Linked DNA regions of Homo sapiens. The protein of the gene in region 1 purifies or fractionates together with the protein of each later gene. This does not show direct contact. Each region holds a gene or a part of one and is shown on either strand. Other genes may lie near its edges.

Evidence for each region.
Region 2: the proteins of DPH5 (region 1) and PARVA fractionate together in Homo sapiens (co-fractionation; one large-scale study listed by BioGRID). This does not show direct contact.

What each region holds. Positions count from the first base shown.
Region 1 is NC_000001.11:101,015,785-101,019,284, reverse strand, and holds part of DPH5 (diphthine methyl ester synthase), read left to right. Parts: intron 1-3,500. UniProt on the Homo sapiens protein: S-adenosyl-L-methionine-dependent methyltransferase that catalyzes four methylations of the modified target histidine residue in translation elongation factor 2 (EF-2), to form an intermediate called diphthine methyl ester.
Region 2 is NC_000011.10:12,384,071-12,387,570, reverse strand, and holds part of PARVA (alpha-parvin), read right to left. Parts: intron 1-3,500. UniProt on the Homo sapiens protein: Plays a role in sarcomere organization and in smooth muscle cell contraction. Required for normal development of the embryonic cardiovascular system, and for normal septation of the heart outflow tract.

The DNA.
Region 1 (3,500 bases):
TTCTTTTACCCAGGTTATTGAAAGGAATATGGAAATAGATCACACAAAGAAAGTAAATGAGTCTAAAAATATATACTAAATCAATAGAACTTAATCACTGTGAGAGTTGACAGTCTCAAACATTCTATCCCTAAATCTCTGCATAAGAAGTCTTTATTAAACACACTGTTTCTAATGATGGTTCTGTTTTATTATTCCATTCTGTATTTCAATATGCTCTGTAACTATATTATTATAATGAATACAAAATTTTTATCCCTATGTTGTATGCCTTTTCCTTAGTGGCATCCATATACAGATAATATGTCCTGATGTAGGCTGACTGCTTCCATTCCATGTAATGAATGTGAACAGTGCTTGATACCTAATAACTATAAAATCAATGGCAGCATTATTATTAGTCTATTTTTCTTCAATATAAATAAAGCTGTCACATGTAAATTTATGTATATGATACCTTCCTGCCTCCCACTTCTTTATCCCCATGTTTTAGGTTGTTTCCTTATGGTAGATCCTCCAAAATAGGTTTTTAGGAATAAAATATCAAAAGGTGTGGACATGGACATTTTGTAGAATAAAGCATATTGTCAATTATTTTTCAAAAGGATAGTGCCAAGTGTTAGTGCTTCCATAGTTCATGAAAACGTCATTTGCGCTATATCATTGCAAACATTACTAAATTTCTGGCCCACCAGCCACACTTATGTCAAAAACGGAGACACTATAAAATTTAAAACAAACATACCAGCCGGCGCAGTGGCTCATGCTTGTAATCCCAGCAACTTTGGGAGGCTGAGGCGGGTGGATTGCCCGAGCCCAGGAGTTTGAAACCAGCCTGGGCAATGTGGCGAAACCCCATCTCTACTAAAAATACAAAAAAGTAGCCAGACGTGGTGGCAGGCACCTGTAATCCCAGCTACTCAGGAGGCTGAGGCAGGAGAATTGATTGAACCCGGGAGGCGGAGGTTGCATGAGCCAAGATCGTGCCACTGCACTCCAGCCTGGGCAATGGAGCAAGACTCTGTCTCAAAAAAAAAAAAAAAAAATCAAATTTTGTATATTCAAATTGGTCACCTTTGTGTACTTTATTTTATTGATTCCATTAATCAAAACATTTTTGGATCTCCTTTCTTGAAATTGCCTTTAGAACAATTTCAAGTAACAAGCATGTTATTACAGACAGATTTATTACTATTTCTGAGCATACATACATATACACATATATGATTTTAGATAGAGCCATATACCTAGAAATAGTAAATTTGTTTGTGTGTATATGTATGTGTCTACTCATTTTAAATAAACTTGTGATAGAGATGTAATTTTGAGCCAGTTTTTCATTTGCTTAAATAACTCACCAAGTAACTAATTTAGTTTTCTTTACTCTTAATGTTAAGTAGTGAGATTCTGTTGAAGGTGATATTAAAAACAATTCTTTATAATTGACATTCATGTTATTTTTTAAAAGCTTATTTGAAATCAAATTAATGATTATTTTTCATACCAGTTTTATTTTATGTATGTGATTAAAAACAGGCTTCCCTGGTGGGCATTTGTTAATTTGTTAATATATATCTGACTGCTCCATGGGGTGAAAGCCCTTTATCTTCCTACTTGGTATGCATTGACCAGTCCACAGGTTCTACTTGTTTGCATGTGGTTTCTCAGACATGCTAATGTTGCTTTACCCAGTAGGGCCTGGAATTTTTATCAGGAGGGAAAAAGGCCTTTAAAATGAAGTTCTAAATTGATAAGCGGTTACATTTCACTGTGTCCATGTTTATATTTATCTATAGTCTCTCTTTACTCCAATCTACCTACTTACAATCTTGAGATTTTATCTTAAAAATGGAAAGGCAACAGGTCAAATATGCACACATACGTACATACGCATACACACATCCTAATTACACACAGTAACCAAATAAAAACAGTTAAAATGACTGCTGGACAGATATAAAATCCAATATTATAGGAGATAGGACTCTCATATAAAGACTGAGTGACAAGCTGTGAAAATTTATGTACAGGCATACCTCGTTTTATTGTGTTTTGCTTTATTTCATTTCACATACATTGCATTTTTTAAAAATTGAAGGTTTGTGGCAACTTTGCATTGAGCAATCCTATTGGTGCCATTTTTTTCTGACAGCATGTTCTCACTTCCTGTCTCTGTGTTACATTTTGGTAATTATTGTGATATTTCAAGCTTTTTCATTATTACATCTGTTAATGATGATTTGTGATCAGTGATCTTTGATGTTACTGTTGTACTTTGGGTTGCCACAAACCAAGCGCATATAAAATGGCGAACTTAATTGATAAATGTTGTGTGTGTTCTGACTGCTCCCCACCAACCAGCCATTCCCCCAACTCTCTCTCTCTTCTTGGGCCTCCCTTTTACCAGAGACCCAACAATATTGAAGTTAGGTCAATTAATAACCCTACAATGGCCTCAAAGTGTTTAAGTGAAAGAGTCACATGTCTCTCACTTTGAATCAAAAGCTAGAAATGAGGAAGGCATATAGAAAGCCAAGAGGCTGGGTGTGGTGGCTCACACCTGTAATCCCAGCACTTTGGGAGGCTGAGGTGGGCAGATCACCTCCAGTCAGGAGTTCAAGACCAGCCTGGCCAACATGATGAAACCCCGTCTCTACCAAAAAATACAAAAATTAGCTGGGCGTGGTGGCGGGTGCCTGTAATCCCAGCTACCCGAGAGGCTGAGGGAGGGACAATTGCTTGAACCCAGGAGGTGGAGGTTGCAGTGAGCCAAGATCATGCTACTGCACTCCAGCCTGGGTGATATAGTGAGATTCCGTGTCAAAAAAAAAAAAAAAGAAAGAAAGAAAAGGAAAGCCAAGATAAGCTGGAAACTAGGCCTTTTTCATCAAACAGCCAAGTTATGTATGCAAAGGAAAAGTTCTTTTTTTTGAGAAGGAGTCTCATTCTGTTGCCCAGGCTGGAGTGCAGTGGCACAATCTCAGCTCACTGCAAGCTCCGCCTCCCGGGTTCACGCCATTCTCCTGCCTCACCCTCCCGAGTAGCTGGGACTACAGGCGCCTGCCACCACGCCCAGCTAACTTTTTGTATTTTTAGTAGAGACGGGGTTTCACCGTGTTGGTCAGGATGGTCCCGATCTCCTGACCTCGTGATCTGTCTGCCTCAGCCTCCCAAAGTGCTGGGATTACAGATGTGAGCCACTGCACCTGGCTGGAAAAGTTCTTAATGGAAATTAAAAGTGCTACTCTTACGAATGCTCTAATGATAAGGTAGTAAAACAGACTTATTGCTGATAGGGAGAACGTTTTAGTGTTCTGTATAGAAGATCAAACCTGCCACAATATTCCCTTAAGCTAAAGTCTAATCCAGGGCAAGGCTCGAACTCTCTTCAAGTCTATGAAGGCTGACAGGGGTGAGGAAGCTGCAGAAAAATTGTTCCAAGCTAGCCGAGGTTGGTTCATGAGGTTTAAGGAAAAAAGTTGTCTCTATAACATAAATGT
Region 2 (3,500 bases), on another chromosome or scaffold:
ACACACACACACACACGCTCAAAAATAGAGACCTGGATAGAATCTGGGGACTGGAAGAGTCATCCAAGGTTAAAGCAGAGTTTGGGGTAACCTGGGGACTCCCTCTATGGGAATAAGATGCCCAGTGATGATTCAGACAGTTAGTTAAGAAGCATTTTAGGGAGCACTGGTTAAGTACTAGGTAGTATGCTAGGCACCAAAGATACCACACAACGGCTACCCTCATGGCATCTGCAGAAAAAACAGAAAAGAAAGGATGCTGCCTAGGGCCTGTGCAGGAGGAGGTCTCCTTGTGCTGGTGCTCTGGTCCTCAGGCAAAGCCCTCATTGGATTTCCTACTGATTTCAGGCTGCACAACCTATTGAAAACCTAACAGAATGTGTTTACACATACTTTTTAAAAGTATTTTATTTTTGAAATGATTGTAGGGCTTTCCTCAAATGTTGTTCTTTGTTCCATGACAGTGAGTGGAGATTTTAGATGCTTACAAATGTTTACATGAGGATTTCATCTCTTCTCCTGGACTCATGGCTGGAACATAATTATGAACTGTGCTTGTTAACCAAATAGAGATATTCCATGAGACAAGAAGGCTGATTCCTAATATGGAGGTGTCCTTGGGCCGGGGCCCACTTATCCTGGTATCCATCTCCTCCTCCCGACACAGAGGTGCCTTCATTAGTAGAGGAAAGAAAGAGGTCTTTGTGATGATGTAATTCCCAGACCACCCTACACAGACAATAAAACTGAATTTGAGAGAAGCTGGGTGAAATAAGAGCTCAGAAATCATAGAATACCAGTGCAGCAGGGACCTAAGAGGTTATTTAGTCTAATCTTTTAATGTTAGAAATGGGCAAATAACACCAAAAGGGGAAGAGATCTGTCTAAGATTACATGGCCAGTTAATGGTGGGCTATTTTCATCAAGGTAAATATGGGGAAATTCATTCCACAGAAATTCTAATAACTGTGTGTTTGATGATATTATGGTAGGCAAGAGGGCTGTCACCATAGTGTGTGACAAGCAGCTGCAATGCAACATGACCAGTGCTAGCACAGAGTATAGACAAGGCACTGTGGGATCACAGAGGAGGAAGCATCTCACTCTTCCTGTGGGCACTGTGGAAGGCTTCATGCAGAAGAGGACTTCTGAGTTGGGTCTTTATGAATGAACAGAAGTTGGTTGTATAGGAAACGGAAAAGGTATTTCCAGAATATGGAACAGCATGTAAAGGCATAAACATGTGAAAGAAAATGACATGTTTGGGGGATTAAGAGTGGTTTCCTATGGTAAAAATGGAGATTTATTGGAAGGGAAATAGAGGAGACAGCAAAAAGGTAAGGGAAGGAGTAGCTGTGAAGGCCTTGGATGGCATGTTAAGAAGTTTGTCCTGGAGAGAAGTTATCTTTGTGCTTTAAAAAACAATGTAGTGGCAAAAGGATGAAGAATGGGCTGAACAAAAATGGACCCATGATAGGAAGCCTAGCTGGGTGGATAACACAGTATTTCAGGTGGAAAATAAGAGTAAAAATTTTGAAAATGAACGAACAATCCAGAGCACTTGTGAAGGCTGAATTAAAGCAGTGATATTTAGATATTTAGTGATGGTAGACTCAGCAGGATTTCATAAAAGATGATTAGACATGGGGAATAAAATGGAGGATGGGGCAGCAAACTACTGCCCTTGGGTCATGTGCAGGCTGCCATCTATTTTGTACAGCCCAAGTGCTAAGAATGGTTTTTACATTCTCATGTACACGTACATGCTTCCTTCAATAGCTGAGAAGAAACAAAAGAAGCATCTTTTGTAACACATGAAAATAATGGGAAATTCAAATTTCAGTGACCATAACTAAAATTATATGGGAACATAGCCACACTTGTTAATTGACCTATTGTCTCTGGCAGCAAAGGCAGAGCTGAATAGTGCAAACCAGGTCATAGGTCTCATAAAGCCTTAGATAGTTACTATTTGGCCCTTTCAGAAAAAGTTGCTGACCTCCTCCAGGATTCTCCAACTCAGTTAAAATCAGTTCATCTTTTTAGTTGCCCAGACCAAAACCTTTGGGGTCATCTTAATTCTACTCTTAGCTGCCAACCGATCTTTCATCAAGATCTGCTGTATTTTAAAAATATATCCAGAATTTGACCCTCACTCCTTCCCTTGCTACCACTCTGTTCCTCAGCACTACCATCTCTCAGCTGGGTCATTCTGGTAGCCTTTATTTATTTATTATTTATTGAGACAGGGTCTTGCTCTGTCACACAGACTGGAGTGCAGTGGTGTGATCATGGCTCACTGCAGTCCCAAACTCCTGGGCTAAAGCGTTCCTTCCATGTCAGCCTCCTGAGTAGCTGGGGCTACAGGTGTGCACCACCACCCATGGCTAATTTTTTTGTAGAGATGGGGTTTCGCCATGTTGCCCAGGCTGGTCTTGAACTCCTGAGCTCAAGCAAACCACCCACTTCGCCTCCCAAAGTGCTGGGATTACAGGCGTGAGCCACCATGCCCAGCCTCATTCTAGAAACCTTTTGCCTCATCTCCCTGCTTCATCTCTGCCTGCTTCAGTCACTTAACACCATCTGAGTGATGGTGTTTTAGCACCATCAGTTAAAACAGAAGTGAGATCACGCCATTCCTCTGCACAAAGTCTTCCCGAGCCTTCCCATCTAACTCTGAGTAAAGGCCCAAGTTTTACAATGGCTTCCAGGGCCCTACAAAACCTGCCTCTGCCCTTCCTCTTGTTACACCCGGGACCAACCCCCGTTCCACAATCATGCTCACTCTCTTCTCCAGTCACATCAACCTCCTTCTTGGTCCTCAATAATGTACCAGGTCCACACCTGCCCCAAGGTCTTTGCATCTGTCATTCCTTCCACCTGTAATGTTATTTTCCAAGATATACATATGGTTCTCTTCCTCACTTCCTTCAGATTGGGACTCAAATCTACCCTTCTTAGTGAGGCCTTCTCTAGCCATCCTACTTAATACTGACAACCATCCTCAGACCACAACCCTCTATTTCTCTTTTTCTTGCTTTATTCTGCTCTCTAGCACTTACTACCACTCAAACAAAATACAAACATTACCAATTTATCTTGTTTATTACCTGTCTCCCCTGTTAGAATGTAAGCTCCAGGAAGGCAAGAGTTTTTGTTTTGTTTTCCTTTCTAGAACCTAGTACAGTGCATGGTACGTGTTAGGCACTCAATAAATAGTTGCTGAAAGAATGGAAATAATGGATCAGAAAGTGACTGGGAGATAAGAAAAGACAAGCAGGTAGAGATAACTCTTTCAAGGCATCTGGTGAGTAGCTAAAGAGGAAACCAGTATCAGGAGACTTTCTCCAAATAGGAAAGACTCAAGCATATTTACAGAACGTCAGGGCGACAGAGTGGCAAAAAAAGATGGGATATGAGAAATAGCATATCTGGCTATGCCAAGTCTGGGAGGAAGCTGAAAGAAATGGCCTTATGAGCAAGGAGAGAAGGGACCTCCT